7 linked regions of the Homo sapiens genome follow. The protein of the gene in region 7 interacts with the protein of the main gene of each other region in a biochemical or structural test. Each region holds a gene or a part of one and is shown on either strand. Other genes may lie near its edges. The genes, in order: MAPK1, PIN1, KLF5, SP1, UBR5, TDG and RARA.

Evidence for each region.
Region 1: of the proteins of RARA (region 7) and MAPK1, one has a biochemical effect on the other in vitro, tested with the Homo sapiens proteins (one study listed by BioGRID).
Region 2: the proteins of RARA (region 7) and PIN1 form a complex in vitro, tested with the Homo sapiens proteins (one study listed by BioGRID).
Region 3: the proteins of RARA (region 7) and KLF5 form a complex in vitro, tested with the Homo sapiens proteins (one study listed by BioGRID).
Region 4: the proteins of RARA (region 7) and SP1 form a complex in vitro, tested with the Homo sapiens proteins (2 studies listed by BioGRID).
Region 5: the proteins of RARA (region 7) and UBR5 form a complex in vitro, tested with the Homo sapiens proteins (one study listed by BioGRID).
Region 6: the proteins of RARA (region 7) and TDG form a complex in vitro, tested with the Homo sapiens proteins (one study listed by BioGRID).

What each region holds. Positions count from the first base shown.
Region 1 is NC_000022.11:21,791,146-21,794,645, forward strand, and holds part of MAPK1 (mitogen-activated protein kinase 1), read right to left. Parts: intron 1-3,500. UniProt on the Homo sapiens protein: Serine/threonine kinase which acts as an essential component of the MAP kinase signal transduction pathway. MAPK1/ERK2 and MAPK3/ERK1 are the 2 MAPKs which play an important role in the MAPK/ERK cascade.
Region 2 is NC_000019.10:9,841,818-9,845,317, reverse strand, and holds part of PIN1 (peptidyl-prolyl cis-trans isomerase NIMA-interacting 1), read right to left. Parts: intron 1-3,500. UniProt on the Homo sapiens protein: Peptidyl-prolyl cis/trans isomerase (PPIase) that binds to and isomerizes specific phosphorylated Ser/Thr-Pro (pSer/Thr-Pro) motifs.
Region 3 is NC_000013.11:73,065,505-73,069,004, reverse strand, and holds part of KLF5 (Krueppel-like factor 5), read right to left. Parts: intron 1-3,500. UniProt on the Homo sapiens protein: Transcription factor that binds to GC box promoter elements. Activates the transcription of these genes.
Region 4 is NC_000012.12:53,407,676-53,411,175, reverse strand, and holds part of SP1 (transcription factor Sp1), read right to left. Parts: intron 1,815-3,500; coding exon 1,615-1,814; intron 250-1,614; coding exon 1-249. UniProt on the Homo sapiens protein: Transcription factor that can activate or repress transcription in response to physiological and pathological stimuli.
Region 5 is NC_000008.11:102,402,701-102,406,200, forward strand, and holds part of UBR5 (E3 ubiquitin-protein ligase UBR5), read right to left. Parts: intron 1-3,500. UniProt on the Homo sapiens protein: E3 ubiquitin-protein ligase involved in different protein quality control pathways in the cytoplasm and nucleus. Mainly acts as a ubiquitin chain elongator that extends pre-ubiquitinated substrates.
Region 6 is NC_000012.12:103,964,561-103,968,671, reverse strand, and holds the start of TDG (G/T mismatch-specific thymine DNA glycosylase), read right to left. Parts: upstream 2,801-4,111; 5' UTR 2,635-2,800; coding exon 2,612-2,634; intron 1-2,611. UniProt on the Homo sapiens protein: DNA glycosylase that plays a key role in active DNA demethylation: specifically recognizes and binds 5-formylcytosine (5fC) and 5-carboxylcytosine (5caC) in the context of CpG sites and mediates their excision through base-excision repair (BER) to install an unmethylated cytosine.
Region 7 is NC_000017.11:40,350,680-40,354,179, reverse strand, and holds part of RARA (retinoic acid receptor alpha), read right to left. Parts: intron 2,271-3,500; coding exon 2,110-2,270; intron 1,850-2,109; coding exon 1,673-1,849; intron 1-1,672. UniProt on the Homo sapiens protein: Receptor for retinoic acid. Retinoic acid receptors bind as heterodimers to their target response elements in response to their ligands, all-trans or 9-cis retinoic acid, and regulate gene expression in various biological processes.

The sequences.
Region 1 (3,500 bases), on a different chromosome or scaffold from region 7:
GAGTGCAATGGCACGATCTCAGCTCATGCAACCTCCACCTCCTGGGTTCAAGCGATTCTCCTGCCTCAGCCTCCTGAGTAGCTGGGATCACAGGTGCCTGCCACTATGTCCAGCTAAATTTTTTGTATTTTTAGCAGAGACAGGGTTTTGCCATGTTGGCCAGGCTGATCTCGAACTCCTGACCCCATGTGATTCACCCACCTTGGCCTCCCAGAGTGCTGGGATTACAGGTGTGAGCCACTGTGGCTGGCCTGCGAACCTGGTCTTAAAACAAGCAAGCAAACAAGCAAACAAACAAAACTCATGACAGTACAACATGTGAACCTGTGCCCAGGTCGGGGGGTGGTTTGGGTGGGGTATAGTTCAAAGGTTATTGGGATAATATCTAAAATGTGAATATAAACTGTGCATTAGATACTGAATCAGTATTAAGTTTCTTGATTTTGAAAACTGTACTGTGGTCATGTTAGAGAATACTCTTAAGGCAGGGTTTTTCAACCTCGGTATGACTAACATTTTGGGCTGAGAAAGTTTCTGTTTGGAGGGCTGTTCTGTATATCGTAGGATTTTTAGCAGCATCTCTGGCCTCTTGATGCAGGGAGTACCCCTACCCCTCACTGTGACAACCCTGCCACATGTCCCCAGGGAACAACAGGACCATGGTTTGAAGTAAAGACATACTGAAACAAGGTGAAGGGGTGTATCTACAATTTACTCTCAAATGACTCAGAGTGCGTGGGAGTGCCCACACACATGCACACAAAGAATGATAAAGCAAATGGGGCAAAAGATAAAAAATCGGTGAGCCTGAATCTGGGGTAAAGGGTATTTAGGAGTTCTATCTGGCGGTTCTACAAGAGTGTTCCAGAGACTCCTATGGGTTCCCTCTAGAGGATCTGAGAGGTCACAGTACATTTATTATACTACTATGACATTTTCATCCTTTTCAGTCACGAGTGAAAAGAAGATTTTTCCAGATGCAATATGATGAGTGATGATGTGTACATGAAAATGTGACACTTGGAATATCTGTGTAACTCAGTGAACCAGTATTTTCCAAATACGCTAAAAAATCATGCATGAGTATGAGTGCAAGGTAGACTAATGGATTTTAACGAAATAGTATCAAGAATTCACTGATATGATTTCAGATTCCACACTGCAATTAACCTTTAAGAAACCACCACTTGTTTAAACTGGGGGTAGGATCAAAGAATAGCCACAAGTGGCTGAAAAGACTACTAAAATTTCCCTCCTTTTTCCAGCTACATACCTGTGTGAAGAGTTTTCCTCTGGCCATACCACCCTGAACACGCCCGATCTTGTCTGATCTCGGAAGCTAAGCAGGGTTGGCCTGGTTAGTGCTTGGATGGGAGGAATAGATCTTGAATTTCATAAATAGCACTCAGACATCTATTTTTAGGCTTATTTGTAAATGTCTTGATAAAATGTCTGATTACTGTTACATACTAGGGAAAAATCTCACTTTTTTGTGTGTTATGCTTTTAAGCATAGATTTTGTTTGCTAAAATGTTATTTAGAATTTTGCATGTATTTTTCACTGGCTTGCGATTTTTCTTTTTATATAACATCTTTTTTAAAGGGTCTTTATTAATATTGCACTCAAGTTTTCTTCTGTTTTCTATGCTCTGAATTCAAGCAGTTAAAATCCATGGGAAAGAGTTTTCCTTGACATTTTTGAAGAACTATGCATGTAATATTATATTGATTATTAAATTGATTAAAGCCTGAAAAAAAAAAAAAAAAGAGTTTTCCTCATGAACTTAAACCAAAACAACATATTTGACAGACTGAATGCAGAACCAGATGAGAATCCAACTGTCTTCTATTAAGCCAGACATTAAAGAGACTTGCAAAAATGAAAACAATGCCACTCTTCTCACTAAAAGGTTGTTTTTCGTTTTGCTTTTTTTAAAGACAGGGTCTCACCCTGTTGCCCAGGCTGGAGTGCAGTGGCGTGATCACGGTACACCGCAGCCTCAATTTCCTGGGCTCAAGAAAATCTCCCATCTCAGCCTCTTGAGTGGCTGGAACTATAGGTGCACACCACCATGCCCAGCTGATTTTAAAATTTTTTGTACAGATGGCAGGGCACAGCAGCTCACACCTGTAATCCCAGCACTTTGGAAGGCCGAGGCAGGTGGACCACAAGGTCAGGAGGTTGAGCCCATCCTGGCTAACATGGTTAAAACCCTGTCTCTACTAAAAATACAAAAAAATTAGCCAGGCGTGGTGGCGGACGCCTGTAGTCCCAGCTACTCGGGAGGCTGAGGCAGGAGAATGGCGTGAACCTGGGAGGCGGACCTTGCAGTGAGCTGAGATCACACCACTGCACTCCAGCCTGGGTGACAGAGCACGACTCCGTCTCAAAAAATAAATAAATAAATAAATAAATTTCTTTTTTGTACAGAGTCTCACTATGTCACCAGGGCTGGTTCCAAACTCCTGGTGATCCTCCTGCATTGGCCTTCCAAAGTGTTGGGATTATAGGTGAGAGCCATCATGCCTGGCCTCACTAAAACGTTTTTATTGTAGAAAATAAACTTATTCTTAAGAAAAACATGTAATTTATCTTAACATGTAGTGGGTTTACTATTTAAAAATTAATTAATACATTTTAAAGTTTCATATTGTAGGCCGGGTGTGGTGGCTCATGCCTGTAACCCCAGCACTTTGGGAAGCCGAGGCGGGTGGATCACCTGAAGTCAGAAGTTCAAGAGCAGCCTGGCCAACATGGTGAAACCCCATCTGTACTAAAAAATACAAAAATTAGCCGGGCATGGTGGTACACACTTGTAGTCTCAGCTACACGGGAGGCGAGGCCGGAGAATCATTTGAACCCGGGAGGCAGAGGTCGCAGTGAGCCAAGATTGAGCCATTGCACTCAAGCCTGGGGGACAAGCGCCAGACTTCTCTCCAAAAATTAAAAAAAAAAAAGTTTCATATTGTAAATAACAATAGATATAACCTACGTAACTAAAAAAAGGTGTGTGGGTCCTTGACTTTTTTTTTTTTTTTGAGACAGAGTCTCACTCTGTCACCCAGGCTGGAGTACTGTGGCAAGATCTCGGCTCACTGCAACCTCCACCTCCCAGGTTCAAGCGATTCTCCTGCCTCAGCCTCCAAGTAGCTGGGATTACAGGTGTGTGCCACCATGCCCAGTGCATTTTTTGTATTTTTAGTAGAGACAGGGTTTCTCCATGTTGGCCAGGCTGGTCTCGAACTCCTGGGCTCAACTGATCCACCCGCCTCGGCCTCCCAAAGTGCTAGGATTATAAGTGTGAGCCACCATGCCCAGCTGGTCCTTGATAATTTTTAACAAATGTAAAGGGATCTTGGCTGGGCGCAGTGGGTCATGCCTGCAATCCTAGCAATTTGGGAGGCTGAGGTGGGTGGATCAGTTGAGCCCAGGAGTTTGAGACCAGCCTGGCCAACATGGCAAAACCCTGTCCCTACAAAAACATACAAAAATTAGCCGG
Region 2 (3,500 bases), on a different chromosome or scaffold from region 7:
GCACTCCAGCGTGGGCAACAAGAGCGAAACTCCATTTCAAACAAACAAACAAACAAACAAACAAACAAACAAAAACGCTTTCTTCCTGAGTTCCTGCTCTGTGAGGCTGACCTTGAGGGGTTTGGTCCTGTGTGTCTTGTTAGCTCAGCCTGTACCTGACCCCGCGACAATGACATCCTCCGACTCCCACCTCGCAGACCTTGGTTTAAGCCTCTTGTCCTGCCTGAAACTCATCAGCTATCCTCTGGTCTCCCCAAGAAGCCTCCCCTAATCCCCCACTGTGTTAGGTGCCTCCCCCTGGGTGCTGCATTTACTACCGTCCCATTGGTGTGTTGCTTGCCCGCCTCACAGTGCAGGAATGGAGGCTGCTGGGTTGGCCTTCTTCATTGCTGCACCCTCAGAACCCAGCACTGTGCACAAAACAGGTGTTCACGAATGTTCAAGAAGTTAATGAATAAATGAGACAGAAATAGGCCATGGGGAAGGAGGGAGACAGGGATCTACCACGGGGCTCGAAGCAGAAATGCTGGAATCTCATGCCCTATCTGCCTGAAACTCAGGCTGCGACCCTAAGGCCAGACTTCCTGGGCCTCCTCCAAGACAATGTGTCAGCCTTGCCCGACGGCGCCAAAACCTGTGAAATTTGATGGGGACTGTCGGGTGCTGGAGCCCCATCCTGATTCGATGTGGCTCCAGCTTAGAACCACACAGACACAGGGTGGCCTCTCCAGGAGCTCCCAGTCTGGAGCAGGGGCCTCCACCTGCTTCAAGGTGTTCAGGACCCCCTGAAATAGTATGCAAAACAGAATGGCACCTATCTGTGCTGGCAGACCCCAGCCAGCCTGCTCACAGTGTATCCCCAAGGTCCAGGAGGACATGTTATGGGTGCTGACTCCAGACTCCATCAGGTCCAGATCCTACCTCTGCTGCTCCTGAACAATGAGAGTCTGGCAGGTGACTTTACCTCTTGGAGCCTCACTCAACTGGCCTGTAAAATGGGGTAACCGCTGCTCCCACGTTGGAGCCTGTTCCAAGGAGTGAATCAGTGACCGCTTAAGCAGTGGCTGTTGCAGAGCAGGCCCCTGACAGATCCAAGCTGCCCATCCGTTATGGACTCAATGTTTGTGTCACCCCAAATTCATGTGTTAAAGCCCTAACCTCCAGTGTGGCTGCATCTGGAGATGGGGACTTTGGGGAAGTAACTAGGGTTAAATGAGGTCATAAGGGTGGGGCCCTGATCCAACAGGATTAGCGCCCCTTTTTTTTTTGAGGCAGAATCTGGCTCTGTCACCCAGGCTGGAGTGCAGTGGTACAATCTCGGCTCACTGTGACCTCTGCCTCCCAGGTTCCAGCGATCCTCCTGCCTCAGCCTCCTGAGTAGCTGGGATCACAGGTGTGCGCCACTACATCTGGCTTTTTTTTTAGTATTTTTAGTAGAGATGGAGTTTTACCATGTTGGCCAGGCTGGTCTTGAATTCCTGACCTCAGGTGATCCACCCACCTCAGTCTCCCAAAGTGCTGGGATTACAGGCATGAGCCACTGCGCCTGGCCAGGATTAGTGTCCTTATAAGAGACACCAGAGAGCTCGTGCTCCTTCACTCCGTGCACATGCGCCTGGGGAATGCCATGTGAGTGCACAGTGAGAGGGCAGCCGTCTACAAGCCAGGAAGTGGGTTCTCGCCAGGAACAGAATCTGAGGGAACCTGGATTGTGGACTTCTGGCCTCCAGAACTGTGGAAAGTGATGACTGTTGTTTAAGCCACACTGTCTGTGATATTTTGTTACAACAGTCCAAGCTAATGCACATCAGTGACCTAGGTGGGAGTGAGGGAACAAATGGGGTAGTCCTTGACCCCAAAAATGTTTCAAGACGTGCTGTCTCCTCTGCCTTGCCAGATCATTACGCTGCTTCCAGCATACTTCCCCCAGGCTGCCCAGGCACCAGAGGGGAAGGGGCCTGGTCGGGGAAAGAGGTGACAGGGTCAGATCTGAGAAGACCAAGATCCAGAAGGAGGGGCTAGAGGCTGGCCCAAGGCCAGCAGGCTGGAAGGGCGCCAGTGACCTTGAGGACCCCAGGACAAAGGGGCTGACCTGGATGCTGGGATGGGTATGTGAGTAGGACAGCTGCTCATAGTCTCAGCCTTGCTGGGACCCTCCAGGCCCTGGGCATGTGAGGGGTGGCTGTCAACAGATCTGGGTGGAGAGCGGGCAGGGAGGGCTTCTCCATGGCCCATCCTCCTTAGACAAGGACACTGGCAATGACTCCCTTGGATCTCTGACAGCCTCTGGCTGTGGCCCAGCAGCTGCAGAGGAGCCAATGCTGGGAAAAGGAGCCTCAGCAGAAAATGTGGAGGTCCCGGCTCTCTCTGCAGGCAGCCTGTCCCTTCGGGGCAAGGGCGGAGCACCAGATCTAAATGGGCACTGATGAGATTTAGCCCGGCTGCCAGCTGGGGAGTGAGCTGCCCAAATCATGGTCTCCTGATCACCCGGCATGAACCCTCGAGGGGAGAACATCCACTTCATGGAAGAGAAAATGAGGCCCAGGTGCCCAATGCCTGCGCCGACACTGCACATGATGATCTGTTACCGAGTGTACCTCGGCCGGGGCCACCTCACTGCATCCTCCTATCGACCTCTGAGGAGATCTGCCCCAGCACCGTCTCAGGCAGGAGGATACCAGGAGAGGGAGGTCGTGTGCCAAGGTCATCATCTGTGTGCTGAGCCCACCAGGCCTCCTGTGGTCCTATCCGGAACTCTTTCTACGGGCTGTGGGGTGGCAGCAGGGGCTGCCCGTGAGCAGAGGCCTTGACTTGACCTCAGCTCCCCCATCGTCCACACCCCAATGACTGGGGCTGAGGCTCCACCGTGCAGAGCACGCCAGCCACTGAGCCCATAGCTCCTGGATCCTCATAGCCACCCTCTCCCCATTCTACAGATGAGGCAACTGAGGCTCAGGAAATGAAGACCACACAGCTGGCACTGAAATCCAGCCCTGTACGAGCCCAGGGTGGGCCACGCTGTTCTGCCCTGACCCTCCCCCAGACATCCCACCCTTGCCCACCTAATCCATCACCCAGTCCTCTCTATCCTGCCTCCTGAATCTCTCTCGGGTCTGCTCCCTCTCACTTCTTCTTCCACTTCCAGCCCCCAAGTTCAAGTCACACCGCCTCTTGCTCCAATTCCTCCCACAGCTTCCACCAGGTGGGCAGGCAAGGCTCCTGCTGACATTCCAGAATCTGCAGGTACCTACGGTGACGCCTCAGGGCCTGGCTACTTACCAGGTGCACCTGTCCAACCCAGAGATGGGCGAGACACCCTCGCCCACCACACCCAGACCCATGCCCTCCTCACTATCCCCACCGACCTCAGCCTTCTGCCAGCTCTCATCAGGATTGCTTGGAGCAGCTCTGTCCTGCGCCTGGCTGCTCTGCTGACCCCCAGGAGCCCACTTCATGCCGCTCCATCCCCAAATGCCTGCACCCTCCTGCTCACTCTTATA
Region 3 (3,500 bases), on a different chromosome or scaffold from region 7:
CCTGCATCAGGCTCCCAAGTAGCTGGGACTATAGGCATGTGCCACCATGCCCAGCTAATTTTTGTATTTTTAGTAGAGACAGGGTTTCACTATGTTGGCCAGGCTGGTCTCGAACCCCTGAACTCAGGTGATCCACCTGCCTCCGCCTCCCAAAGAGCTGGGATTACAGGCGTGAGCCGCCACCGCGCCCAGCCAAATATTATCGAGATTTTAAAACCAAAAGCTATGTTTAATATATTCCATGAAAAATGACTTTGGAGCAAAGACCTAGAAAGGAATTTTTTTTTTTTTTTTTTTTTTTGAGATGGAGTCTCACTCTGTTGCCCAGGCTGGAGTGCAGTGGCACGATCTCAGCTCACTGCAACCTCCGCCTCGTGGGTTCAAACGAGTCTCTTGCCTCAGCCTCCTGAGTAACTGGGACTACAGGCATGTGCCACCACGCCTGACTAATTTTTGTATTTTTAGTGGAGATGGGGTTTTGCCTTGTTGGCCAGGCTGGTCTCGAACCCCTAAACTCAGGTGATCCACCTGCTTCGGCCTCCCAAGTGCCAGAATTACAGGTGTGGGCCACTGTGCCAGGCCCTAGAAAAGAAATTCATATCTAAGGATCTTTTAGTACCCAAACTGAAAGTCAATATATTCAGCAGCAAATCTCAAGTACAGATTATACGAAGTATAACTAATAACATCTTACTACACATGTCAGTAGGCAATAAAGTCTTCTGCAAAAGACAGTAAGGCAGAAAATGGGAATGTAACCCCTTTACAAACTAGGCTTCCACTAAAAATCTTTCCAGGACTTAATGTGGAAATCTTTCCTAAACAGGGAATCTTGAACACAGTGCTTTAAGAGTCCATTTTGTGAGTCTGGCGTGGTGGCTCACGCCTGTAATCCCAGCACTTTGGGAGGCTGGGGCGGGTGGATCATCTGAGGTCAGGAGTTCGAGACCAGCCTGGCCAACATGGTGAAACCCCGTCTCCACTAAAAATACAAAAATTAGCCGGGCGTGGTGGCAGGCGCCTGTAATCCCAGCTACTTGAGAGGCTGAGGCAGGAGAATCGCTTGAACCTGGGAGGTGGAGGTTGCAGTGAGCCGAGATCGCACCATTGCACTCCAGCCTGGGGACGAAAGCGAGACTTCATCTCAAAAAAAAAAAAAAAAGAAGAGTGAATTTTGTGTTCCTATGTTATTTGTACAATGTTTCCATTTTCTCCTACGGGCGTGTTTCAAATTGTCCTTTTCCATTGTCAATCTCCAGTAAGCCACTCTGGGATCACTTAGTACACACAGAGTCCAATGCATGGAGTCTGGGTCTGAGGAATACTTGAGCCAAGTGTGTGTTGTTCAAAGACTTTCTTTGTACAAATGCTAATTTCTTGCCCTGTTCCAGATAGCTGAAACGGGGGAAAAAAAAGAAAGAAAAAATCTAGAAACGTTACCGTACCCTGATTTCCCAACAGCTTTTCCATATTCTCTAAGGTTAAGTGTATATCCACGCACATGAAGGGAACCGCTAGGACTTCAAACATCTGTGTTGAGTTCATGGTTTACTTTTTCAGAACTTTTTCTCTGGTAAGAACTTTTTAAATTTCTACAAATTTTTGTTTGAAGATACAGTCAATATATTTTCCTACTGATTTCAACTTGCCTCAAACCTTTGCAAACTTAGACATTATTTTAAATGTTCATTATATTAAAGAAAAAAGTAAGGTATGTGAGCATATAATACTGGTTGCAATAGACAGTTTATCAGTCATGTTGATTTATAAAGACAAAACAGTATACTTGGGAGCAACTTTAGAGTAATAGCAATGTGTTCCGCCCCTTGTAGACATCATGAGGCATACAAATTTCAGTACAATGTTCATTTAAATGCTGTTAAAAGTACAAATATTTTGAATTGGAAATACACCACTCATTGACATTGTTACCTAGAAGCAGCCATAATTATTTCTCACCAAAGGCATGATAAATGTATACACACACATACTACAAATAATACATGCGAACATCCACATCTATAAGGGGTGCTTCTACAGGCCTTATGCTATACTATGTATGTACAGATATAAATAAAATATAATTATTCCCTAGAATAGAAGCAAATGTTTCCAGTATTGTCTAATCACACAAAGAAGACAGAACTTTGTATTATTTATATGCGATTTCCTGATAAAGAAATCAAAGTATATGAACTTAGAAGACTTGAATGCTATACTTCTGGTTTAAGAAACTGATATATCATCTACTCTGTCATCTCAGATTACTTAAAAAGTTCTATTTTGTTAAGACTATTATTTGCTTAGGTTCAATTTGCAACCCAAGTTAAAGAAGCACTTCCAATCTAAAAATCCAGAAGAAGTAATTAAACTCAGATGTAGGCTGTTTTCATTGCCTAAATTATTTTTAAAACATAAGGTAACTTGACATTTTAAAGCAATTACAATTATTTTCCAAAGAAATGCTAGGGTGCTTCACATTCTGCCTGTAAAACGACAATCATTTAAAGAGTATTTTATGTCATCAACTGTTGTGTGGTTTTTAAAGTCCTCTGATCAACGGTCCGAGAGGGAGGAGGAGGACAGAAAGAAAACCAAAAAAAGCTATTACATAAGAGAAGTAATTTAGAAAAACTGTCCTAACTGTTCTACCTGGGCCTTAAAGGGAAAGAAAAAAAAAAAACACCTTTGCTGGCTTCAGATACATTCATTTAAAAACAACAGGCGGGCAGGGTGGGGAGGATGCAATGAGAGAACAGGTAATTTTAAAAGGCATTGTCTAGAAATGAGAAATGAGGAGAAAACAACCTCAATGCTCTATGATTACCCAAGAACAGGTTTAGCCAGATGAACAAGTCTGCTACAAACCCTCCCCAAGGCATTTGAAAGACTATCAAACAAAACTTTATTAAACTGGATTACATGTTCTCATTCATTAGATGTTGAAGGCCACAATGTTTATGGTCAGGTGAAAAAGCTGATGCAAGGGACCCAAACCAGGTCTCGGTCTTCTTTTCAGTCTGTTTTTATTAGTACAAGCATTGTTAAGACAACCCACGATTAAATGTATTTGCCGGCAGGTCAAGTTCCTGAATCGCAGGTATAAGCATTCAGGGCACTAAACCCTGACGGGGTGAAAGGCTATTCAGATATGGGTTTGACTACATCCCTGCAATAAGTAGTTGATTACATCGTTATATGCAATTGTGCTCTTTTATTAGGAGACTTTAAACCCAGGAAAATGTGTTCCCTCCTATCTCTCAAGGACTTCCAAAAGTGAAAAAAACAATAGTTCAAATGTCTTTATATTTCCATTTATATTCTGTAAAAGGACATTTTGGTATTTCTACATGGAATATTTTCCTGGCACTTGTCATTTGTATTTTGAAAACTTTAAGTTGGAGTTTTTATAACATGCTTAATTCATTTGTGTTTAACTATAAAAATTTCTACCTTGGGCTGCCTATGAAGGATCCTTCCTCTTATGTAATCAGTTTGTC
Region 4 (3,500 bases), on a different chromosome or scaffold from region 7:
TGTTGGCAAGACGGGCAATGCCCTCTGGACAGATGGCCTCCATGGCTACCATATTGGTGGTAATAAGGGCTGAAGGAGTGGCAGTGCCACTGCCTTCTGAACCTGCCCCACTGTCCAGGGGCAAAGTGCCCACACTCAGAGCTACACCTGGGCCTCCCTTCTTATTCTGGTGGGTCTTGATATGTTTTGACAGGTGGTCACTCCTCATGAAGCGCTTAGGACACTCAGGGCAGGCAAATTTCTTCTCACCTAGGTAAAGGAAGAAAAGATAAGAAGCTGACATGTTAGGAAGTGAGGTTACCTTACCCAATTCAGTGCTTACTCTACTAAGCTGAGTAAGGCCAGTATGAGAAGGTGATCAAAAACAAGAAAAATCTTCAAGTGGCTGGGCGTGGTGGCTCACGCTTGTAATCCCAGCACTTTGGGAGGCCAAGGCGGGCAGATCACGAGGTCAGGAGATCAAGACCACGGTGAAACCCTGTCTCTACTAAAAATACAAAAAATTAGCCGGGCGTGGTGGCGGGCGCCTGTAGTCCCAGCTACTCGGAGAGGCTGAGGCAGGAGAATGGCGTGGACCCGGGAGGCGGAGCTTGCAGTGAGCCGAGATCGCGCCACTGCACTCCAGCCTGGGCGACAGAGACTCTGTCTCAAAAAAAAAACAAAAAACAAAAAACTTCAAGTATATTTTCCTTTTGGCGGGGGCGTGAGGAAGAAAACTAGATAAAGGTTGGGGAGTACTCGGTAAGGAAGGTAGAACTTAGCAGTTTTAAAAGTAAGGCAGGGCAGAGACTAAGAGTAATGGTTTCAATGCTTCACCTTCAAAAATCCCACTCAAAATCTAGCTCCTTATTTTATTTTATTTTATTTTTTTGAGACAGAGTCTTGCTCTGTCGCCTAGGCTGGAGTGCAGTGGCACAATCTCAGCTCACTGTAACCTCCGCCTCCAAGGTTCAAGCAATTCTCCTGCCTCAGCCTCCTGAGTAGCTGGGATTACAGGTGTGCACCAGCACGCTTGACTATTTTGTAATTTTAGTAGAGACAGGGTTTCCCCATGTTGGCCAGGCTGGTCTTGAACTCCTGACCTCAAGAAATCCACCCACCTCGGCCTCCCAAAGGGCTGGGATTACAGGCATGAGCCACGACACCTGGCTCCTTCCTTTTTTTTTGAGACAGTGTCTCGCTCTGTCGCCCAGGCTGGAGTGCAGTGGCACGATCTTGGCTCATTGCAAGCTCCGCCTCCCAGGTTCATGCCACTCTCCTGCCTCCACCTCCTGAGTAGCTGCAACTACAGGCGCCTGCCACCATGCCCGGCTAATTTTTTTGTATATTTAGTAGAGACGGGGTTTCACCATGTTAGCCAGAATGGTCTCGATCTCCTGACCTCGTGATCTGCCCGCCTCGGCCTCCAAAAGTGCTGGGATTACAGGCGTGAGCCACTGCACCCAGCCCCTCCTTCCTTCTTAAAAATTTTCCAGATTAACTCCAATTCCATTTGTGACCCATATATTCAGTTTCAAATTAAGTTGCTCAGAAATTTTAGTTATTTTGTAGGTATATTTTGTGTTTTTCATTCTAGTCTATTACTATTTTTCTCTCCCATAGGCTCTTGCTCACCTGTGTGTGTACGTTTGTGCCTCTGTAGCTCATCCGAACGTGTGAAGCGTTTCCCACAGTATGACCAGGTACACATAAATGGCCTCTCGCCTGTATGCCAGCGCAAGTGTGCCCGCAGGTGAGAGGTCTTGCCATACACTTTCCCACAGCCTTGGATGTGGCAAATATGCTGTTTCTTTTTGCCAGGATCCCCCGAGCCCCTGAAAGTGAGGACACAACTGTTAATCATTCATTCTAGAGAAAACTAAAGAACCACAAAGTATCAACAGCAATCACCCAATCGACACCAAACTAACCCAAACTTTTATTTTTTGAAAAAGTCTTCTTTTTTGTTTTTTTGAGAGAGTCTCACTCTGTCGTCCAGGCTGGAGTACAGTAGCATGATCACGGCTCACTGCAACCTCCGCCTCCTAGGTTCAAGCGATTCTCCTGCCTCAGCCTCCCGAGTAGCTGGGATTACAGGTGCACACCACCATGCCCAGCTAATTTTTATATTTTTAGTGCAGATGAGGTTTCGCAATGTTGGCGAGGCTGGTCTCGAACCCCTGAGCTCAGGTGATGGATCTGCCCACCTCCGCCTCCCAAAGTACTGGGATTACAGGCGTGAGCCACTGCACTGGACCAAGGCTTCTTTTTTTTGTTCGTTTGTTTGTTTTGAGACGGAGTCTCGCTCTGTCGCCCAGGCTGGAGTGTAATAGCGCAATCTTGGCTCACTGCAACCTCCACCTCCCGGGTTCACGCCATTCTCCTGCCTCAGCCTCCCGAGTAGCTGGGACTATGGGTGCCCGCCACCACACCCGGCTAATTTTTTGTATTTTTAGTAGAGACGGGGTTTCACCATGTTAGCCAGGATGGTCTCGATCTCCTGACCTTGTGATCCACCCACCTCGGCCTCCCAAAGTGCTGGGATTACAGGCGTGAGCCACCGCACCCGGCCAAGCCTTCTTTTTTAAAAAGGTTTCTAGGGGCTGGGAGTGATGGCTCACGCCTGTAATCCCAACACTTTTGGAGGCCGAGGCAGGTGGATTGATCACCTGAGGTCAGGGATCCGAGACCAGCCTGGCCAACATGGCGAAACCTCATCTGTACTAAAAAATACAAAAATTGTTCAAGACCAGTCTTATCAACATGGTCCCCATCTCTACTAAAAATACAAAATTAGCCAGGCGTGGTGGCACATGCCTGTAATCCCAGCTACTTGGGAGGCTGAAGCAGAGGAATTGCTTGAACCTGGGAGGTGGAGGTTGCAGTGAGCCGAGATCGTGCCGTTGCACTCCAGCCTGGGCAACAAGAGCGAAGCTCTTTTTTTTTTTTTTGAGACAGAGTCTCACTCTGTCGCCCAGGCTAGAGTGTAACGGCACGATCTCGGTTCACTGCAACCTCCACCTCCCAAGTTCGAGCAATTCTCCTACCTCAACCTCCCAAGTAGCTGGGATTACAGGCACCTGACACCACGCCGGTTAATTTTTGTACTTTTAGTAGAGATGGGGTTTCACCATGTTGGCCAGGCTGGTCTTGTACTCCTGACCTCAGGTGATCCGCCCGCCTTGGCCTCCCAAAGTGCTGGGATTACAGGCGTGAGCCACCGTACCCGGATGAAGATCTGTCTTAAAAAAAAAAAAAGGCCGGGCGCCCCCATGGCTCATGCCTGTAATCCCAGCACTTTGGGAGGCCAAGGCAGGCGGATCACAAGGTCAGGAGATCGAGACCACCCTGGCTAACACGGTGAAACCCCGTCTCTACTAAAAATACAAAAAATTAGCTGGGCGAGGTGGCGGGCACCTGTAGTCCCAGCTACTAGGGAGGCTGAGGCAGGAGAATGGCGTGAACCCAGGGGGCGGAGCCTGCAGTGAGCCAAGATTGTGCCACTGCACTCCAGCCTGGGC
Region 5 (3,500 bases), on a different chromosome or scaffold from region 7:
GTTCCAGGTTGTCTGTGAGGTAGACCTGGTATCTGAATTCAAGTAAAGACCTGGAATACCTCATCGCCTGAATTCTGAACAGCAGATTCATGCTGGAGCAGAGCCAATTTCTTGAAACGGCAGGTTCTCGACACTTCTATATCACAGAAATGGAGCCTGAACTCATGGGGAAGAAAATAAAAACTTATCTACTGATCCATTCATCACAGTGCTTTGTCGACTAGCCACTATCATCATCTTTATAACTAGCAATCTAGAATACAACCATTACATTTAATGGAATTCTAAAATATAATCTTTTTACATATACTAGTATGTTTTTTAATTAACACAAAAATTTGCTGTCAAGAAAAATCTAGGTTTTTATTATCAGTGGACTTTTCCTATGAAAAACATTGTGATAAATTGAAGCCAAGAAAAACTTCAGGCCAGCCATGGTGTCTCCTGCCTGTAATCCCAGCATTTTGGGAGGCCAAGGTGGGAAGACAGCTTGAGGCCAGGAGTCTGAGACCAGCCTAGGCAACACAGCAAGACCATGTCTCTAATTTTAAAGAAATAAATAAGGCGAGGCACAGTGGTTCATGCCTGTAATCCCAGCACCTTGGAGAGGCTGAGACGGGATAATTGCTTGAGCCCAGGAGTTCGAGACCAGCCTGGGCAACACAGAGAGACTCCATCTCTACAAAAAATTAAAAATTAGCCAGATGTGGTAATGCAAGCCTGTAGTCCCAGATACTCAGGAGGCTGAGGCAGGAGGATCGCTTGAGCCCAGAAGGTCAAGGCTGCAGTGAGCCATGTTCACATCACTACACTCCAGCCTGGGCAATAGCGCAAGAGCCTGTCTCAAAAAAAATTAAAATAATAAATAAACAAGAAAAAAATAAAGACTAGAGAATAGCTAGAAAGAGTAAACTACCCAAATTTATATCAGCTAGAAAGCAGATTTAAAAACTGTGGTACAGTCATGAAATAAGTACTACTTTTTTTGTTTGTTTTGAGACAGAGTCTCACTCTGTTGCCCAGGCTGGAATTCAATGACACAATCTTGATTCACTGCAACCTCCACCTTCCCAGGTCAAGCAATGAAAATACTACTTTTAATATAAAAGAAGAAACTACTACATGCTGCAACACAGATCTGTTGCAAAAGCACTGTTCTAAGCAAAAGAAAACAGACACATGATTCCATTTCTATGAAATTCAAAAAGGAAAAGCATTACAGTGAGAGAAAGCAGAACAATGGTTGCTAGGTAGCCAGGACCTAGCCTAGGGGGAAGTGACTGAAAATACAAAGGGAAACCAGGTAACTTTTTGGGGTGATGAAAATGTCCTGTACCTGGATTGTGGTGGTGATTACACAACTGTACACATTTGCCGAAATTCATCAAACTGTACACCTAAAATGGGTTAATTTTACTGAATGTAAAGTATAACTCAATAAAGATGAAAGAGTCAAAGACATTTTATTAAGTGATACTGTCAGAAATTGAACAAATAACAGTACTTTAGCTGTGCAAGTAACATAAATTGTGTATTTACAAGTAAAATAACATTAAATATTAATACCTTCTTTAATATCCTGACAAAATGACAATGTTACAAAGCATGGTTATCTAAGAATTTATCGTATTTCTAATTTGGAAGGGGTTTTGTTACCACTACACTGATTGTCTCAAGAAAGTAATAAGAAATATGATCTCAGAGAATAATTTCTTATAGCCAAGTTCAATTGACTAATACCTCACCTGTCTATTAGTTCATGAAAATGCTGCAAACTTTTCACATGACAATCTTATTTCTCAAAGTGACCCCATGGAAAAATCACTGAATTTCAAGAATCCTGTCTTATCATCCTTATCTAACAATTACAAGTGACTGCTGACAAAAAATGCTGTCATACCGGAGGTTAAGAAGTTATAGCACTGAGGCCTGGCACAGTGGCTCACGCCTGTAATCCCAACACCCTGGGAGGCTAAGGCAGGTGAACACCTGAGGTCGGGAGTTCGAGACCAGCCTGACCAACATGGTCAAACCCCGTCTCCACTAAAAATACAAAATTAGCCAGGCGTGGTGGCTCACACCTATAATCTCAGCCACTTGGGAAGCTGAGGCAGGAGAATCACTTGAACCCGGGAGGCGGAAGTTGCAGTGAGCAGAGATCACGCCACTGCACTCGAGCCTGGGCAACAAGAGCGAAACTCCATCTCAAAAAAAAAAAAAAAAAAAAAAAGTTACAGCACTGAGCTTTAAGGAACTAAATAATTCCCCAGTGGCCCCTTCTTCTAAGGTTACAATCCAAATTCTAAGGTTATTCTACAAATGTCAAATTTTTTAACATGTTAGAACCCAATCAGCTTTATTAAGTAAAATTATCAAAATTGTCAATCAGAAATAAGCATTTATGAGACAACAGGAAAATCTGGGCAATTTTGTTATTAAGGTTTTTTCAGGTTTTTTTTTAAAGGCTTCATATTTTGAAATATATAGTGAAGATACAGCAATTAAATTACCTGATAGAGGAGAATAAATGGGGAGAGAGTTGAAATCAGATTGGCCATGAGTTGACAACTGTTAAGACTGTGTGATGGGAACATGGTTGTTCATCATACTATTCTCTCTACTCTTGTATATGCTTAAAATTTTCCAAAATAAAAGGCTTAAAAATAATACTCAGGGGAAAACTTAAAAACCAGTTCTAAAAATAAACCAACAATTCATAACCACAGTGAGCCAAGAGAAGAGGCTATTTTCACATGACCAGAATGCCAAGGAGTCAAAATGACAGAAACATGGATGCTAACTAGAGTCTGTTTTCTTAATTAGAAATATGTATAATATGGGCGAGCGCAGTGGCTCCCGCCTGTAATCCCAACACTTTGGGAGGCCTAGGTGGGCAGATCACGAGGTCAGGAGTTCAAGACCAGCGTGATCAACACGGTGAAACCCCATCTCTACTAAAAATACAAAAATTAGCCAGGTATGGTGGCGTGCGCCTGTACTCCCAGCTACTCAGGAGGCTGAGGCAGCAGAATCGCTTGAACCCGGGAGGCGGAGGTTGCAGTGAGCCAAGATTGTGCCAAAATGGCACCACTGCATTCCAGCGTGGGCAAGAGCGAGACTCAAAAAACAAAATAAATATGTATGATAAAATGAGGGAGGGGAGACATTAAGTACATCCTCCTGTAACATAAAATTGCTTCCTTTAATATACCTTATAAGATCTACGTCCATGTAACTCAGTCTTCAGCAATTAAATTTTCCTTTGGAAACTATTTCCTAAATAACCTAATGGTCTAATTGTTAGGGGAAAAAACCCTGACCTTTCCTAATTTCACCTATTATTCCTAGTCGTATTCCTGTGTATCCTGTAATTTTCTTCACAAGTGTCTGTTTATTCCTAGGCCTATGATTCAGTCACAGATATCCTGATTTATAAAATTGCTCTGCCTTTGTTTTGATTTTCTATTTTGCTTGGCTATTCTACACCCTGCTGTTAATCT
Region 6 (4,111 bases), on a different chromosome or scaffold from region 7:
TTGAAACACAACACACGCAGGCCAAGGCATATGATTCTGTTAGAACACCTGAAACTTCTCCTAAATGCCTTCACTGGTCTTGAGCTTTAAGTCTTACAGATATTCATTCTGCCATTTCCAGTCAGACAATCATTTTGCTAACATAGGAGATGTAAAATCCAAATCAGAACAAAGTACTTAGGTGTTCTGTTGTCTGCTGCCACCATGCCAGTAGACTGGGGAGAAAACCCAAATCTTTTTTATTCTTCTTGTTGTCAACATCTAACCAAAACAGTCCTTCCTGGTCTCCTTAACATTTCTATAAAGTCTACTCTCATGCAAGGGTTAATCTTTCCTGTTGGTATTCTTAGTGGTCCATGCTACTCTCTTCCAGTTACTTTTGATTTGGCATCCTATTTTCCATCTTCGGTAAATGTCTTTTTCACGCCTGAGGTCACGGGAAACTCCCCAGTACCCTTAGAAAATTCCTCCTTTATTCCTCTCTGGTTGATTGACTGTAAGCACTTTCTAAGACTCCTGAACTATTTTGCCATTGAAATAAAGTCTAGGCTGGGCGCTTTGGCTCATGCTTGTAATCCCAGCACTTTGGGAGGCCAAAGTGATCACTTGAAGCCAGGAGTTCAAGACCCGCCTGGCCAAAATGGTGAAACCTCGTCTCTGCTAAATATACAAAAAATTAGCTGGGCGTGGTGTTGGGTACCTGTAGTCCCAGATGCTTGGGAGGCTGAGGCATGAGAATCGCTTAAACTCGGGAAGCAGAGGTTGCAGTGAACGGTGATCGCACCACTGTACTCCATCTTGGGCAACAGAGTGAAACTCTGTCTCAAAAAAAAAAAAAAACAAAAAAAAAAGTCTGTATTCATGGAATTTGAATTTTCTTCTTTGAATATCTGAAATTAGTCTTCTAAAAAAGTCGGCTGGGCCCGGTGGCTCACATTTGTAATCCTAGCACTTTGGGAGGCCGAGGCAGGTGGATCACTTGAGGGCAAGAGTTCAAGACCAGCCTGGCCAACATGGTGAAACCCTGTCTCTACTAAAAATACAAAAATTAGCCAGGCCTGGTGGCAGGTGCCTGTAATCCCAGCTACTTGGGAGGCTGCAGCGGGAGAATCGCTTGAACCCGGGTGATGGAGGTTGCAGTGAGCCAAGATCCGCCACTGCACTCCAGCCTGGGCAACAGAGCAAGGCTCTGTCTCAAAAAAAAAAAAAAAAAAAGTAAATTTATTTTTTTTCACATCCCACATTACATTTCTTGATTAGCACAGTCAAGGGTGACAGAGAACTACTCTCTTAAGGATTACCTGGGGTCTGAGTCATTTCAGAAGATTACACAGAATTTTCCACAGTTCCTGAAGGTGAAAGCTTTTCAAGGCAAAATAAAATCTGGTCTATAGCCTTTTGGATGAAGTCAGGCCGACATATCACAGCTTTGAGCTAAACAGTGTATTGAAGTCCTACTATTTTGCTGTAAGACCCTGAATAAAGTCTTACAATGTGTAATTTATTCTTGGCCCAAGTTTCAATTCTGCTCTTAAGTGAGGTTATGAGAGAGAGATTTCCACAAATTCTGGTGAATTCTCTTATTTGTAAAGTTCTTCTGGGAAAGAAGTGGAGTAATTTATTCCAGGACTTGATCCACAAAGTCAAGATAAAGTCCACACTTTGTCTACATATATCTCTTTTCCTAAGCTCTAATTTATTTTGGTTAGTGTGCCCTTTCATGTAACACCAATTCTCGGCATGTCAGAATCAGATTCCAGACATGCCAACTTTACAGACATGAACAGGCCCATATAAGTCCCTTGTATTGCCTAAATTCAGCTCCCATTAGCCACTGAGAGTCAGGATAATTCTTCATTAGGCATAGGTTTTTTTCCTTTTAATTTCAATGTAAATCATCACTCTTTATCTTTTAAAAAACTGTCACCATATCCATTTTTTAAAAATTTAGTCTTCCGCCAGGAGTTCAAGTCCCTAAATCTCCTGCTTTTGCAAATTTTTCTCTTGACTCCCCCAAAGGACTTTTTAAAAACGGATTCTTAAGATCGTCCCCAAGGCCACTGGAAAACTCAAAGGTCATTTTTAGATTGACTACTCGAGAGTGTATACATATGCCCACAACAAAATTATCTAACCCGTGACCCTTAAAGTTGCTTTCAGTAGGCCTTTGGGGTGGGGGGAAGCCGCAACAAATCAACCAACTTTAAAATGAAAACTCCTGGAGCTGGAAATGTTCGACACTCATCTTTACAGCTCTCTGCGTGGTAATGGAGGGTGACGGAAAACCCTTCTAGCCAAGAATGGCATCCAGAAAGACACATTAACCAAAGACTGCTGAATGCTTACTAATATATTTTATAGTCAACTGGTTATCGCGGGGAACCAAAGAAGGGTCCAGGTGCACCAGGTAACCCTCAGAGCAGCCCCGACCTCCACCACCACCGCCGCAGCCAGGGAAGGAAAGGCCGACCAGGCCACAGTGCGCACGCGCGGCCCCGGCCTTTGTATTCCGGCCGGGATTTAAAAGACCCCTGCGTGCGCGCGCGCGCGCCAGCCAGCCTGCCCAGCAGTGAGGGGCGCAAGGGAGGGGCGGCGCTGGCCCCGGTATTACCTGCCCGCGTTCTCCGCTTCCATTCCCCGAGGCCGCTGATGCGGGCGGCTCCACCTGCCGGGCACACGGGCAGCCGGTCTCTGTAGTACCGCGTGGTACTCACTGCGGTAAGACAACCCCAGAGACCTGGGCCCGATGGCTGGCAGTACCCAGACAGTGGCTGGACTCAAGCTCCTCCTCCAGGCTTCTACCGTCCCCCACGGACCCCCTTTCTGTGCTGCACTTCCGCCTCCTCGGAGCCAAATCCCACGCGTACTGGCCGTCACGTGATGTAGGACAGCCCAATCACGCTCACCCCCTTCTCGTTGGCGCCCCAGCTCCGCCGCTTGGCCTTTCGGGAAGGGTGGAGGACCAGAAGACGGGGACTAGGAGCGCTCTGCCGACGTCAGCTTTTGTCTCCAGTATTTTCGGGGGCTGGTGGACGCGTGGGCGATAGGGTGCTGTCCTTGGGGTGCTGTGTATATGGGATGATGACGCTTATCAGCATTATCTAGTCCTTTCCACCCCGAAATTCGCCCCGATTAAAGACTGTGTTGCATTATCAGGTAATGAGATGTGAGGGAGGGTCTTTGAAAGTGGAAAACCTGGGCGTCGAGGCCACTGTGCCATCTTGGGCCTCAGTTTCCTTATCTGTGAAATGAGGGTGAATGTAAAGCTGCTATGTAAAATGTAAAGCTCTACATAAACCACTCTCCGCATTACTTTGGATATATGAGAATATTAACGTTTGACGTCTACGAGACTAGATCCCATTCGAGCATCACCTCCCATAACCTTACAGACTAACCCCTCTTTTAAATCTCAGTGGTTCGTAATCTTACAGACTAACCCCTCTTTTATGTCTCAGTGGTTCTTGCAGCTGGCTTTTGTTTCATTAGTTCTCAATTTCTGTCACTGGTGTTTGTACTTTATTAAGGAACTCTTAATGGAATAGGCTTTTGGGTTTTTCTAGTTTGCAGGATGATGAAAAACATGGCTGCTGTATTTGTTGGCTTTCCTGAGTTTATTCATATAGTAACAGGTAACTCCAAACCTTCAGTGGTTTACAGCCACAGAAGTTTATTTCTCACTCACGTGATCTGTGAGCTGGGAGATGGCTGTGGCTCTGTGCTCCATGTATTTTCTTCATTCTAGGATCCAGGCTTTCGTGAGTAAATACAGAAAGATTTTTGTAATATATCAACTGTTTAAAGTTTGAGTGAAACGTTTAAAACAGTACAGAACTTTTATGAATACCCTGTCCATTAGTAGACACTACTCAGAACCTGGCACATGGTAAATATTCAATGAATATATGTTGAGTGAATGAAAAAAGCCCATCCTCTCTGATTTTGCCAATGGCTCAGGACCATCGTCTAGAAAAGTCTTACAGCAGGTGGCTTGCCTCAGTTATTTCAGGGCATCCAGAAAGACACATTAACCAAAGACTGCTGAATGCTTTGGGAGAGAATTCTGGTGACTGAAAATGTGTGTGAAGAGAGTAAACTTTTCTCAGGATGT
Region 7 (3,500 bases):
TGATAGAATTTTCTACAATGATGGAAAGGTTCTACGTCTGCACCATCCATACCTCAGCCACCAGCCACATGCGTCTACTGAGTACTTGAAATGTGGCTAATGCAACTGAGGAACTGAATTGAGTTTAATTTTAATTAATTTAAATTTAAAGAGTCACATGTGGTGAGCAGCTACTGTACTGGATAGTGCAGGTCCAGGTCATCCTGCCTACATGCAAAGAATGTAGAGGGGACCTAGAATTTCTAGGAGCTAAGGAACACTGGGCTGCTGCCTACAGCTCCCAGGATGAGGTACACAACAAGCGCTCAGTAAATGTGTATTGGCTTGAATGTGGTTGCAGGAACCCAGACGGCACCTCCTGCATCCACGGCATGGGGATGGGAGCCCCTGCAGGCAGCACAATCTAAACCTCCCACCCATCACCCGCCTCAACATTCAGAGGTGCCCATGGAGAAATGACAGTCTGCCGGCTCACGCGGGAGGATCACCTGAGGTCAGGAGTTCGAGACCGGCCTGGCCAACATGGTGAAACCCCGTCTCTACAAAAATACAAAAATTAGCCGGGTGTGGTGGCGGGTGCCTGTAATCCCAGCTACTCAGGAGGCTGAGGCAGGAGAATCGCTTGAACCCGGGAGGCAGCAGTTGCAGGCTGCAGTGAGCCAAGATCATACTACTGCACTCCAGCCTGGGTGACAAGAGTGAAACTCCATCTCAAAAAAGAAAAACATAAAAAGAAATGACAGTCTCGTCAAATCCCAGGTTCCCCACCCTGGAGGTGACCAAGAGGGAACAGGTGGACCGAGCCCTTGTCAGGGACAGCAGGAAGGAGAGTGCTCCCTCCAGCCTAGGCTTTGGCAGTTCCCACCACCTCTTCCTGCCCCCACCCCCTGCATCCAGCCTCCAGCCCAGTCTACCCTCGGGCTCACCTCACCGAGTGCCCGGCAGTCCCCTGAGCTCAGCATGGCCTCACAGCAGCAAGTCTTTCACTTCCTGCTCCTGAGTTAGGGCTACCCTCTCACCTCCCCCTCTACAAACCCCTAGATGTCACCTCCTCTGAGACATCATCCTTCAGGCCCAAGCAGTCACAAGCCCTCCCCCAATCTCCAGGAAGCATTGATCACAGTTTTGCAACCTCTGTTGACTTATCTCTTGCCTCACATGGAAGGTTTTCAAGAGAGGGGATGGTGGTGCATTCACCGCTGGGTTCCTGACACCCAGCTCGAACACTGGCCAGAGGATCCTAGGTGAATCTTTTTAGTTTTTTGCAGAAATAAGGTCTCACTATGTTGCCCAGGGTGGTCTTGAACTTCCAGCCTCAAGTGATCCTCCTGCCTCGCTCGGCCTCCCAAAGTGCTGGGATTACAGGTATGAGCCACTGCACCTGGCTCCTACGTGAATCTTTATTACTGGCTAAATGGATGGATGGCTGGGTGGCTGGATATGTGTATGGGTGAACAGGTGAGCTCCTGCACATCTGGCTGCTAGGTGGCTGAGTGGACAGGGAGACGAGTGGACAGGTGGACATATGGGGAGAGGAAGGGCAGACATTTGGGCGGTGGGCATTTGGACAGGTTGATTGCAGACAGACATTTAGGAGGGTGGCTGTCTGGCTGGAAGGACATCTACCCAGGACACAGGGGCAGTGCCTGGGGGCCAGGGTGCAGACCCTCACCAGGATGTCCAGGCAGGCAGCCTTGAGGAGGGTGATCTGGTCGGCGATGGTGAGGGTGGTGAAGCCGGGCAGCTGCTTGGCGAACTCCACAGTCTTAATGATGCACTTGGTGGAGAGTTCACTGAACTTGTCCCAGAGGTCAATGTCCAGAGAGACACGTTGTTCTGAGCTGTTGTTCTGGGGGAGGAGGGAGAGTGAGGGCCTTCTTCTCCATGGCACCCCTTCTCAGCCTGGCTCCAGCCCCCACAGGCCTGCCCTCTACCCAGCCTTCACTTCCTGGGAGCTCCTTGGGAAGAGGCAGCAGGAGGAGGGAGAAGAGAGGGGAAGGGAAGGACGCAGAGATCTTGCCTGGCACAAGAAGGGGTGCCTGAGAGGGGCCCATCCTGGCCCTGTGGCCCTGGGCAAATCCCACCCTGCAGGCCGGGGGAAAGCCATACCGTAGTGTATTTGCCCAGCTGGCAGAGGGCAGGGAAGGTTTCCTGGTGCGCTTTGCGCACCTTCTCAATGAGCTCCCCCACCTCCGGCGTCAGCGTGTAGCTCTCAGAGCACTCGGGCTTGGGCACCTCCTTCTTCTTCTTGTTTCGGTCGTTTCTCACAGCTGTGGAGGGCAGAGGGGGTTAAGAGGGCAGCTGCAGGCTGCTCAGGGCCTCGTCCACCCCCAGCCTGACAGAGAGCTGCCAGCTGCTGAGGAGGTCACCCAGGCTTGTAAGCACGCGCACACAGCACGCGTTCACGGGCAGGCAAGGCATTGCCACGCACTCCAGCCCTCCATGCCCACCCAACCCACACATCAAGTTCTGCCCCAGAAGCCCCATGAGCACAGCTGTGGCCCTGCACACACCCCCCACCCCACCCCATAGCCAGCCGCATGCTATCCCCCACGCGTCTACTCCAGCTCACACTCCAGGCGACGGTGCCCTCCTAGGTGCTCTGCCTCCTCTTTCCCCAGGAAGGTCCTTCTCCCGCCTCCACTCACCCAGCCCTCCCAGCTGCAGTCTCCCTGGGGGTCCCTTGGGACTGGCTCTGAGCAGCTCCTGGGGCAAGTGGGGAGTAGGGCTCCCCAGCCTGAGAGTGGGGGACCTGGCGGGGAGAATCTCTTGGCCCATTAGCTGGGGAGCTGACAAATCACCAGGGGCGCTGAGCCGCACACACCACTCGGCTTTAAAGAAGCGATGGGGTCGTTACCAGCCGATTATCCAGACACACAATCACTCACAGGGCTGGTGGTGGTGGCTGCTGACGCGGGAGGAAGGGAGGGTGGGGGAGGGGCTCAGGGAGGGGGTAGCGAGGTGGGGGTAGCTGGCATAATTTGGAGATCACTCATGTCGATTCTGCAAATTCAATAAAGTGCAGGGGAGAGAAGGGAGAGGGAGAGGGAGAGTGGGGGGATAATTTGGGAAGAGAAAATTGCAGCTGTGACAAGACGTTTATCATTCGGAAGCTTTAATTCTATTGAAATGGCAGCTGCTCAGCTCCGGGGCACAGAGCAGCCGGGAGAGGGGGAGTTGGCGGTGGGAGGGAGAAGGGGAGTTGGCGGTGGGAGGGAGAAGGGGTCCCCTCCCTGGTCCTTCTGCCATGAAAAGAGCAGAAGGTGGCACAAACAGAGAGGAGGAGGTGACAGCCCTTAAGCGAAGGGTTCCAGGCTTGTGGGTCTTGAGTTGTCACCCACTCTTGCAGCAGGAGCCACTTCCTGGGCTCAGGACAAGGCACCCCCAGCCTCCTGTGGCAGGACACTCCAGTCCCCTCCATTCCTGTCTGGGGCTCTTCGTGCAACAGTCAGAACCATCTCACCCGTGCCCCCTCCCCACTGCCCTCCCCACAAAGGGCT